Homo sapiens: one gene and its partner. The protein of the gene in region 1 interacts with the protein of each later gene in a pairwise test. Each region holds a gene or a part of one and is shown in the gene's direction. Other genes may lie near its edges.

Region 1 (3,795 bases):
AATGCGCTAATAAGTGGTAGAACTAGGAGTACATATAGTCATGGTTGAACTAGAGAACCAATTTTCTCATCTTCATTTATAATTAAGCAAGGCGTAGCCCAAGAAGAACACATGACTCATTTTACGCTGATAGTTTCTGGGCAGATATTAGCATACAGATCTTTTGATTCACTACCACAGATTGCCTTCTTATATTCTGTGGGGTATAATCTTTAAATTAAAGTCTACAGAATAGTGTCAGGAACTGGAATAAAGTTAATGCAGCAACTGAAACAGTCAAAAGTAGTCTGGGCAATGATTGCTCTAGAAGTGAGCCTTTAATCTAGTATAGATCAGGCCTTTCCATTCATATTTATCCCTATGTAGCCAGGCCCTCTGAAAAAGAGGGGCCTTGGTGAACTCTGCTTGGGATTCCCTGTTCTCCACCCTGCTCCCCACTTTCATCTCCTGCAGAGGAACATCTTCTGCAATGAGTAGAAATATCTGAAGAGGAATCTCAACTCCAGAGGTTTGATTCAAAACTTTTTAATGCTCTTGTCCTTAGTGGGTTAACCAGCATAACAAAGTAACATGCATCTTTGAACTGTTATAACATATTACAGAAACAAGTTTGAGAAGTGTTCAGAATTTTTTTTAACTAGAAAGAAATGTGTTTTCACTGTTCTGAAAAATCCTGTTGTTATACAGTAGAGCTTTATAACCAAAAGCTCTATGGCTGGATTTATTAAAAACAAAAACAGAAAAACAAAACAAAACAAAAATTTGGTCCTAGAAAAAAGGAAGTAAAATATCCATTTTTAAAAAGTTGTATATATTAAACTGGGAGATTGCCCTTTCTTCACATATTATTCATGCATTCTGGTTTATATGATTCAGTTTTGGAGTTAAAAGTAAATTTTCTCTGTCAGCATTGCGTCACTGAGCCATTTTCCTCAAAATTTGCTTTTTAAGAAATAGCCTGTGGGCTCAAGACCTCCCTGCAGTCTGCTGCTGAAGCAGTTGTTCAGAGAGCAAGAAGAGATTATGGGGATAGTCTTTCCATTAACAGCTGCTTTGATAACAGAACAAGAGTCAAGCTTATATGGTAGATGTAAGACAAAACTTGGTATTTTATAGACAATTTTAGGTAAACTTTTATAAGCTAGGCTTTCTTAAACTACATTGCTTATTTGGACCGATGCTGAGAAACTCTTGAACTAAATCTCAATTTGCCCTATTTCTCTTTTCTACTATCTCTGTTGACCCCTTTATTTCCCTTCCCTGATGACAGGAGATTCCCTTTTCCATGAAGCATCTCCTGGTCTGGCCAACAAATAGATTGTTTTTTTTTTTTTTTTTTTGAGTCTCCACAAATGGTCTGCTTTGACACTTACCTTCTACTTTATGAGACAGTCTGCTGCATAGCTGGATTATTATTCCTCCCACCACAGCTCCAGATTCTATTCTGTCTGAAGACAACTGTGTGTCTTCACCCCACAATCTCTGTATCCCCTACAACATACGGCATTTGCTTCTGCATAGTAGGTCCCTAAGTAAGATGAAGAACCTGCATCTGAAAGATTATGTGGTTTGTGCAGGATCTCACCACACAGTCTGGTGGAGCTAGACCGACTATGCAGAATTTGATCCTTAGTCTGTTTTTTGTTGTTGTTGTTTTGTTTTTTGTTTTTTGCTTTGTTACCATACTGCCCTCCCTCTAAGCATTTAAGCATTAGGAGGCTCCCCCATGTCTTTCTGTTCATGGATACTCACATGCCTAAATTTGATTTATTTCTATAGCTAACAGCACAGGAAGAGGATCATGAAGGAAATCAAGAATAATAATCAGATAACCAAAAAGCCATTTATTATGGGACTTGAGAATGTGATTTTTTAAATGAAAGTGATATATAATTTTTAATTCTATCAATAGGTTTACTTAAACTAGTATTACAATAGGATTTTGTTTCATGAAAAAAGATTTCTGCTAATAGTGGAAGAAACTAATTTATAAATATACTTGGTAGCAGAGAGAGAACATTAGCTTGGGATTCAACTGCAGTTGAGCAGTAAAGTTAATAATTGCTAGAAGTTGATTAACATTTTTGCAAAATTGTTTACGGGAGCCTCTAATAGAGATCATATTAATTAAATTTCACTTGTTTTCCCTCCCCTTTGTTACCATCTAGTAGATGTGCTAATAAGCAACAAAATGGACAAATTGCTTGATAGGAGATGCAGCTAACTTGGACTCTTAGAATCACACGGTTTGCCTAGTTAGAATTAACTGAAAACATATTTTTTTAACTTCAACTAGTATTTATGCTTGAACATTGTCATGGAGAAGAACTTGTTATATTTTATAGCAGAATAAACAGAAATAGTTTCATTTCTGTTTTCATTATTTATACATGCTTGTGTTTGTGCTTTTCTCTTTCTTTAAAAGGAAATCATAGGTGGGATGCTGGATATAGAACCAAGACTTTGGAGGAAAGGCATCCGAGAAAGCTTTGAGGATCAGAGGAAAAAAGCACTGCAGTTTGCTCAGTGGTGGAAACCATATGACTTCACCAAAAGTAAAAACTATTGAGGTGTACCTTCCATTTTAAAATTTTTCTTCAGATCCCGTTCAGTTTTATTTCCATTGCATCTAATGAAGCAACTGACCCTCAGGTCACAGGCAGAGAGAGTCACAGCAGCAGACTGCTCTGGGTCAGTGACAACTGTACATCAGGAGATTGTGTTGTTTTCTTCTTCACCTGCTCCTATCTATGGACTTCATTTTAGTCACCATGGAGTAAAAACATATATTCGATGATCTGCTCACATTCCTGCTCTCTACCTACTTCTTGGTATTCCGAATTGTTCAGTTAATTTAGAGAAGGCCTTTTCTGAAGGGATATCTAAAAAGCATAGGAAATCCTTGGTTCAGAGGGAAGTGGGTCTGCTTCATGGTTGTTAAGTCTACTGTCTGGCTTCTTTTGCATTTTTAAAAATAAGACGATTTAATTTTAATTTCATAGGATTTTATAGAAAAGCTCTTAATTTTCTACTAGCAGTATATAGTATCACTTCTATTCTTTTTGTTAAAGGAAAAGGAAATGTCCCCAAAGTATTAAAGAATTAAATGATACTGAAAATTTGTATGATTCAAATTTGTTTTTATTTCTGGATTTTTAAATAGTATCTTTGAATTTTGGTGGTTCTAAAAGTAATTCTTCCAAATAACATATTTTAGGGTTGTTTGGGGTTTGCATGAAAGTTAAAATTTATAGCCAAATCATTGGTTTTGAGTTGTACTGATTGTCGTAAAATCTTAAGTAATGAGAGTTTTTATTTATTTATCTTTTTGTTTTGTTTTTATTTATTAAGACAGAGTCTGGCTTTGTCACCCAGGCTGGAGTGCAGTGGCCCAATCATAGTTCACTGTAGCCTTGAACTCCTAGTCTCAAGCTATCCTCCTGTTTCAGCTTCCCAAAGTGCTGGGATTGCAGGTATGAGCCACCATGCCTGGATGAGAGTATGGGACATTCTGTTGTCCCTTACTTGATCCAAGGAACGTAATTTTTATTTGTTCTCAACTCACACCATAGTCATATTTTGTAAGTATAGGGTTTTTATGTTTTGAGTGCTCCTACTTTTCTTTTTCTTAATGGAAATTATTGTTGTAGTAACTTTTTTTTCAGCTATTGGCTTTTTGGAAGCTGAACCTTTTTGTATGAAATGTTGGATACCTAGATTCAGTGTGAGGTGTGCTCCACTGTAACTTATAACTCTACACATTGTTTCTTCTCTTTTTTAAATTATATTTTAAGT
Region 2 (8,179 bases), on another chromosome or scaffold:
TAGTGTTTACTTTTTTTTTTTTTTTTTGAGACGAAGTTCCGCTCTTGTTGCCCAGGCTGGAGTGCAATGGCATGATCTCGGCTCATGCAGAGGCAACCTCTGCCTCCCGGGTTCAAGCAATTGTCCTGCCTCAGCCTCCTGGGTAGCTGGGATTACAGGTGCATGCCACCATGCCTGGCTAATTTTTGTATTTTTAGTAGAGATGGGGTTTCACCATGTTGGTCAGGCTGGTCTCGAACTCCTGACCTCATGATCCGCCTATCTTGACCTCCCAAAGTGCTGGGATTACAGGCATGAGCCACCGCACCAGCCTTAGCATTTACATTATTATGATTTTTTTTTTTTTTTGAGATGGAGTTTCACCCTTAATGCCCAGGCTGGAGTGCAATGGCGCGATCTTGGCTCACTGCAACCTCTGCCTGCTAGGTTCAAGCAATTCTCCTGCTTCAGCCTCCCGAGTAGCTGGGATTACAGGCATGTGCCACCACACCTGGCTAATTTTGTATTTTTAGTAGAGATGGAGTTTCTCCATGTTGGTCAGGCTGGTCTTGAACTCCTGACCTCAGGTGATCTGCCCACCTCGGCCTCCCAAAATGCTGGGATTACAGGTGTGAGCCACCATGCCTGGCCTCATTATTATGATTATTATGATTATACGAATACACGTATGATCCATGTGGATAGTTACAATTCTTTTTCTTTCCTGTACCATTTTTGTTTTCCCTGGAATTAATAACTGCCTTGTCCTCTCTGTTTGCTTAGTTTCCTGTGTACTCTAATTTATCCCCAAATTCTCCCTTAATTAATCTCTTATAAGGATATACAAACACTTAGGGATTTCAATCTACGTCATTTTGAAGAACTTTCTCAAAAAGCTCTTAGACCTGCTCCAGTCCAGAGAGGCGATCTTGAGGCTGCGCAATTGGGATCTCCCTTCACCTTTATCCTGGGGATCCCCTTTGCCTCTCTCTTGTGTTGACGTCCTGTTTCCTGGAACCTGTGTTTCCTCTTTCTATGTTTACTCTTCTTATTTTGATGGAGCTTTTTGAGAAAGAGTACCGGGAGGTAAATTTGTTGGGAACTTAAAAGCCTGAAAATGTCTGTTCTATTACTGCACTTAATTGAGAGTGTGGGCCGGGCGCAGTGGCTCATGCCTATAATCCCAACACTTTGGGCAGCCGAGGTGGGTGACCCACCTGAGGTGAGGAGTTTGAGACCAGCCTGGCCAACGTGGTGAAACCCCGTCTTTACTAAAAATACAAAAAAAACAAAAACAAAAACAAAAACAAAAAAAACAAACCTAGCCAGCTGTGGCAGTGGGCACCTATAATCACAGCTACTCAGGAGGCTGAGGCAAGAGAATCACTGGAACCTGGGAGGCAGAGGTTGCAGTGAGCCGAGATCATACCACTGCACTCCAGTCTGAGTGGCAGAGTAAGACTCTATCTCAACAACAAAAAAATATTGAGAGTGTGGCTAGGTATAGGAAACGAGGTTGGAAATAATTTTTTTTTTTGAGACAGAATCTTTCTCTGTCACCCAGGCTGTATGTAGTGCAGTGGTGTGATCTCGGCTCACTGCAACTTCAGCCTCCCAAGTTCAAGAGATTCTCCTCCCTCAGCTTCCTGAGTAGTTGGGATTACAGGCACACGCTACCACGTGTGGCTAATTTTTATATTTTTAGTAGAGATGGGGTTTCACCATGTTGGCCAGGCTGGTCTCAAACTCCTGACCTCAGATGATCCACCCACCTCGGCATCCCAAAGTGCTGGGATTACAGGCGTGAGCCGCCGCACCCAGCTAATTTTTGTAGTTTTGGTAGAGAAAGGGTTTCGCCATGTTGCCCAGGCTGCTCCTGAACGCCCGAGCTCAAGTGATCTGCCTGCTTCAGCCTCGCAAAGTGCCAGGATTACAGGCATGAGCCACCACACCTGGCCTTGGAAAATTTTGTTGAATAATTATTACTATTGATTTTAGATGATTTTATCCTTTCCAGATAATTATTTCTGTTATCACTTTCTGGAATTCTGGTTATTCAGATGTTGTATCCCATGGACTAATCCTTTAATTTTCTTATACTTTATTTTCCTTTCTTCTATCGCCTTTATTTATTTTTGTTTTTTATTTTAATTTTTTGAGATGGAGTCTCGCTCTGTCACCCAGGCTGGAGTGCAGTGGCACAATCTTGGCTCACTGCAACCTCTGCCTCCTGGGTGCAAGCGATTCTCCTGCCTCAGTCTCCCGAGTAGCTGGGACTACAAGCGCGTGCCACCATGCCCAGCTAATTTTTGTATTTTTAGTAGAGATGGAATTTCACCAGACTGGTCTTGAACTCCTGACCTCAGGTGACCTCAGGTGATCCACCCGCCTCAGCCTCCCAAAGTGCTGGGATTACAGGCATGAGCCCTGTGCCTGGCCATGGTTGCAATATTAATAATTATTATAAATATTAATAATTTTTCCAGTGTCTTTCTTCTGCCATCACACTATGAAGTCAGAGACTTCCAAGTCTGTTTGTCTCCACCATTAAATACAAAAATTTAAAAATTAGCCAGATGTGGTGGCTAAGCTCAAAGGGCAAAAAAAAAATAAAAGTAAATTCATCACCTTATTTTCTAAACCTTTATCTCCTATGTTATCTCTTCCATGATTGGCATTACCATTTACTCTAATCCAAGAAGTGGATGGAACATAGGACAACTCCCAGAATGTGAAGTTTTCCTGCTACTACCCTTATTTCATGACAGTTTTTCCTATTTTGAATTTCCCCAGCATTATTTATTATTATTATTACTATTTTTTGAGACAGAGTGTCGCTCTTTTTGCCCAGGCTGGAGTGCAATGGCACAATCTGGGCTCACTGCAACCTCTGCCTCCCAGGTTCAAGCAATTCTCTTGCCTCAGCCTCCCAAGTAGCTGGGTTTACAGGCATGCACCACCATGCCCAGCTAATTTTTGTATTTTTAGTAGAGATGGGGTTTCACCATGTTGGCCAGGCTGGTCTTGAACTCCTGACCTTGTGATCCACCCATCTTGGCCTCCCAAAGTGCTGGGATTACAGGCGTGAGCCACCGCGCCGGGCCACTATTATTATTATTTGTTGTTGTTGTTGTTGAGATGGAGTCTCGCTCTGTCGCCCCAGCTGGAGTGCAGTGGCACGATCTCCGCTCACTGCAACCTCCGCCTCCTGGGTTCACGCCATTCTCCTGCCTCAGCCTCCCGAGTAGCTGGGACTACAGGCGCCCGCCACCACGCCCAGCTAATTTTTTTTTTTTTTTTTTTTTTTTGTATTTTTAGTTGAGATGGGGTTTCACCGTGTTAGCCAGGATGGTCTCGATCTCCTGACCTCGTGATCCGCCCGTCTCGGCCTCCCAAAGTGTTGGGATTATAGGCATGAGCCACCGCGCCCTGCCATTATTATTATTTTTAAAGAAGAAATTTCACTCATTGCCCAGGCTGGAGTGTGGTGGCATGATATCCACTCACTGCAACCTCCACCTTCCTAGGTTCAAGCGATTCTCCTGCCTCAGCCTCCTGAGTAGCTGGGACTCCTTCCGAGTAGCTGGAACTACCACGGCTAATTTTTTGTATTTTAGTAGAGACGAGGTTTCACCATGTTGGCCAGAATGGTCTCCATCTCCTGACCTCGTGATCCGCCCGCCCGTGATCTCGGCCTCCCAAAGTGCTGGGATTACAGGCCTGAGCCACCGCGCCCGTCCTAATTTTTGTATTTTTAGTAGAAACAGGGTTTCGCCCTGTTGAGGCTGGTGTCAAACTTTTGGGCTCAAGTGATCCACCGCCTGAGCCTCCTAAAGTGCTGGGATTACAGGAGTGAGCCACAGCGCCCGTCTGAAACTATTCTTAAAGCTTTCTTTCTATTCTTTCTTTCTTTTTTTTTTTTTTTTGAGACTGAGTCTTGCTCTGTCGCCCAGGCTGGAGTGCAATGGTGCGATCTTGGCTCACTGCAACTTCTGCCTCCCAGGTTCAAGGTAGTCTCCTGCCTCAGCCTCCCGAGTATCTGGGATTACAGGCGCGTGTCACCACGCCCGGCTAATTTTTGTATTTTATTAGATGCGGGGTGGGGGGGGGGGTGGGTTTCACCATTTTGGCCACGCTGGTCTCGAACCCCTGACCTCAGGTGATCCGAGGACCTCAGGTGATCCACCTGCCTCGGCCTCCCAGAGCGCTGGGATTACAGGCGTGAGCCACCGCGCCCGGCCAAAACTTTCATTGTATCACAATCTCTTCAAGGTAAGAGCCATGACTGTTAAATCTACTACAGTAGAGAGTTACAGATTCTTAAAATATCGGCGATGCATACGCGAAGAGGGTAAAGCTCAGCGCGTGCGCACCAAGCACCTTTTTCCTTGCGGCGACTCCTCTTCTTTTTTTTTTCTTTTTGGAGCGTGCGCACCAAGAAAGACAAAGGTGGGGAAAGTGACCAAGCAGTCGTTCAGGCGCATGCCCATCCCTAACTTGTCCAAGCCCGGTGGGGCCAGCGGCGGCGGAGTGGGTGTGGCCTGAGCGCTGTGTGACTGTGCGGACGCCGCCCAATCGGACTGAGCGAGCCCGGCCCCTCCCTCCCCCTGATTGGTTGGTTCTCAGTGTTGTGGGGCGGGGAAAGGAAGAGACGGGGTGGCTGGGCGGTGGAGCGGTGAAGAAAGAAGGCTAATCTTGTTCTGCGCAAGCGCTAGCAAGCGACCAGGAGGGGGAGTGAGAGAGTGAAAGGGAATGTGGAAGCCCCGATGCGCTAGCTGGCGCTAGCTGGGGCTCTAACCTTGACGCCTGCGCGGTGGCCCTCGGGGCCCCGCGCGCAGCGGGCGGGTGCCCGGTGCGCCTGCGCAGTAGGCGGCGGTGGCAGGGGGAGGTGGAGGCTGTGGAGCGGCAGCGGCAGCAGCGGGTCCCGGGACTGAGGCAGCAGCGGGGGCGGCGGCGGGCGGAAGCTGAGGTGACGAAGGCAGCGGCGGCGGCGGCCGTTTCCCTCACGGTGGCGGAGACCAAGGCGGCGGCGGCGGACGGGGAGCGGCCCGGCCCCGGCCCCCTGCTCGTTGGCTGTGGCAGGGCCGCCGTGGGGCCGGCCCGGCTCCCGCCCCCCGCGGCTCCCCCTCCGGCTCCTCCTCCGGGGAGACGCCGGGGGCCTGGCCCGGCCCGCACTCAGACTGCTGCTGCAGCCGCCGCCGGGGGAGTCGGAGGCGGTGGCGGCGCCATGGGCGGCCTGGCCTCTGGGGGGGATGTGGAGCCGGGACTGCCCGTCGAGGTGCGCGGCTCCAACGGGGCCTTCTACAAGGTGAGACGGCGCGCCGACTGGGGACGCCGGTCCTTAGCCCCCTCCCCTGGCCGGAGCAGGAACGCGTGGGGCGGGATCGAGCTTCTGGAGCTGAGTCCTGGCCCTTAGAATCTTGGACCCTTGCTCCAACCCGCAGCCTTCCCTGGGAGACCGCTTAGAGTGAACCCTGTTCCTCTTATTTTTGACCCCTCTAAGGCACCTGCACCTGCTTCTACCCCCATCTCCGGGAGAATGAACTTCAGGCCATTATTGTCCCTGGCTTGGCGCTCCCCGCTCCGCAGGAGAGACCCCTTTACCCAGCTTCTAATTGACTGTGTCCGTTGTCTGGTGGAAGACATACCTTAGACCTTAATCACATCTTCCCCACGATCCAAGCACATGGAGAATTGTCTTTCTTCCACACGGTCCCTTTGGGAAGGCCCTCTGTCCCGTAAAAGATCCTTTCATCTTCCTCAGAGAGGCCTCTGCCTACTGGCTCTGGAACACTCACCCCACTTTCATCTTATATTCCGGTTCCCAAGCCAAGGAGAAATGGTCAGATCCATTTACGACGTTTGGCATCTTTGACCTCAGGAACCCTGGGTTGGATCAGTCAAGTTGCTTCCCAGCCAGCCATAAGGTGGCATCTTTCGCAAGTCTCTCTCCCCACCACACCTTGATCTCAAGACCCACTGCTCTACCATTCTACTCAGGAATGGATTTGAGGTCTCACTTAGACCTCAGATACCTTCAGGTCATTCATATAGTTTCTTCGTCTTGAGGCATGTAAGCTTCATAGTCATAATCTCTAAAAGGATCTCTGAAAGGAAGCTTATGAGGTTCCCTTCTGTTTATCTTAAGATTTCCACTTCTTGAAGACTCTTGGCCAACTATCCCAGTTCGGGAATCTGACAACCTTTTTTGGAAGACGGGATCATCTTTCAAAGACCCTTCCTTATTTCACCTCCCCCTTTGCCCAGGATTTGGTTCCTTAGAACTCCTTATAATACCACCTTCCTTATCTGCTCTGAATCTATTTTCTAGGACATTTTTTTCCCATTTAGATTAAGCCAGAGAGAGCCCTTTCTTGCCTCCCAAGAGTTTTTCTTTGTGTGACTGTTGGTATTCTGAACCTCTTGGATTTGATGCCTGGAATTGTCCTAGAGACTCTCCTGATTTCTGTCTCATTCTTTGATTTCACCCTGGGGAGCTGGGGAAGAGATACCTTCCCATGGCATCACTTGTTAAGAGTGGATCCCCCTTCCCCCTTTCCTTCAGTTCCCCTCAGGCCTTTTTCCCCCACTGTAGTCCTCTCTAGTTTCTCATGCCCTTGGAAATGTCTTTCTTTGACTCCTTCTCTAAGTCATATTTTTCTATAACTGCAGAGGGTCTTGTAATTTCTCTTGGGTGGTTTCTGCCTGTACTTCAGTTGCTAAGTGCATTGTAGTCATTTTTTTTTTTTTTTTTTTTTTTTTTGAGATGGAGTCTCGCCCTGTTGCCCAGGCTTGGAGTGCAGTGGTGCGATCTTGGCTCACTGCAAGCTCCGCCTCCCTGGTTCGCGCCATTCTCCTGCCTCAGCCTCCCGAGTAGCTGGGACTACAGGTGCCCACCACCATGCCCGGCTATTTTTTTGTATTTTTAGTAGAGACGGGGTTTCACTGTGTTAGCCAGGATGGTCTCGATCTCCTGACCTAGTGATCCACCTGCTTCGGCCTCCCAAAGTGCTGGGATTACAGGCGTGAGCCACCGCGCCCGGCCATTGTAGTCATTTTTTACTCACTCTTCATACTTACCCATTTTTGCCTTACTTCCCTCATCAGATTTATTTCTCTGCGGTGACTGTGGGTACCCATGTCTAACTTACCTTCTCAATTCAAGTTTTTAGCTTTTTCTCCTAATATTTCTGTATTCCTGTGTAATCCCCAGGAATCACCTTATTCCCTGTCTAGCTGAAGGAAGCTCCCTGCTGATCTCTTTTTGTCATTTTGTGCATACTTGCCTAACTCTTGGGACTTTTTCTTCTAGCCTGCCTCCATAGCATTTCTGTTTTCTTTGGCAAAAGTCTCTAATTCCTTTCTGCTTTTGATAGAGCACATTTGTCTCTCATATCCTTTTCCCCAAACTTGCATTACCTTTGTTGAAATAGCTTCCTAAAGTGGCCCTCCCTGTTTACCTTGGTATCTTTTCCTTCATCTGGGTCCTTACCACCCCCAAATTCTGAGTTCCAAGAAAAGTGATTCTTAAGTTGAGTCCAAGATCAAGATATGATGTTTGCTTTGTTCTAGGAAGCGTAGGAGCCCTGCACAGCTGAGAAAGATTGGTATCCAGTTCAAATGAACTGTATGAGATGGCTGGGAAGGGACACGTTTTCTGTCCCACATATAAGTGTCCAGCAGAAAGTCTCTCTGAATCTTTTCCCTTTCTCCTGTGTGCTGTGGCAGTGATAGACTTGAATAGATGGGGACCAGGATACTGTGATTCAGAGAGTAGAGTTTGGGGTTGAGCTGAAAGCCAGGTAATGTGGTAATGTGGATCTGGGCAGGTTAGCATTTTCTGCCCTGTTCCTGAGTTAAAAACCACAAATCCCTAAATTCAGGCTAATCTTCCACTCTCAGTACCCTACAGATACTTATCCGTTTTGACCTTGCTGCTGATTTAATATTCATGACTCAGCAAACTTGGGATGGGTCAGGGAGTATTTACACTGCTTCTGGAATTGTACATTTGGGAAGGTCCCTTTCTCCTCTCTCAGAATTGGGCCCTGTTGTCAGTTTTCTTTTCTTTCTTTTCCTTTTTTTTTTATTTGAGACAGGGTCTCCCTCTGTCATCCAGGCTGGAGTACAGTGGCGTGATGTCGTCTCACTGCAGCCTCCGCCTCCCAGGTTCAAGTGATTCTTGTGCCTCAGCCTCCCG

What was found.
Region 2: the proteins of CWF19L2 (region 1) and FXR2 interact in binary tests that used the Homo sapiens proteins (3 or more experiments, as listed by UniProt).

The regions. Positions count from the first base shown.
Region 1 is NC_000011.10:107,325,684-107,329,478, reverse strand, and holds the end of CWF19L2 (CWF19-like protein 2), read left to right. Parts: intron 1-2,425; coding exon 2,426-2,569; 3' UTR 2,570-3,119; downstream 3,120-3,795.
Region 2 is NC_000017.11:7,611,560-7,619,738, reverse strand, and holds the start of FXR2 (RNA-binding protein FXR2), read left to right. Parts: upstream 1-4,841; 5' UTR 4,842-5,206; coding exon 5,207-5,287; intron 5,288-5,627; exon of another isoform or gene 5,628-5,675; intron 5,676-8,179. UniProt on the Homo sapiens protein: mRNA-binding protein that acts as a regulator of mRNAs translation and/or stability, and which is required for adult hippocampal neurogenesis. Specifically binds to AU-rich elements (AREs) in the 3'-UTR of target mRNAs.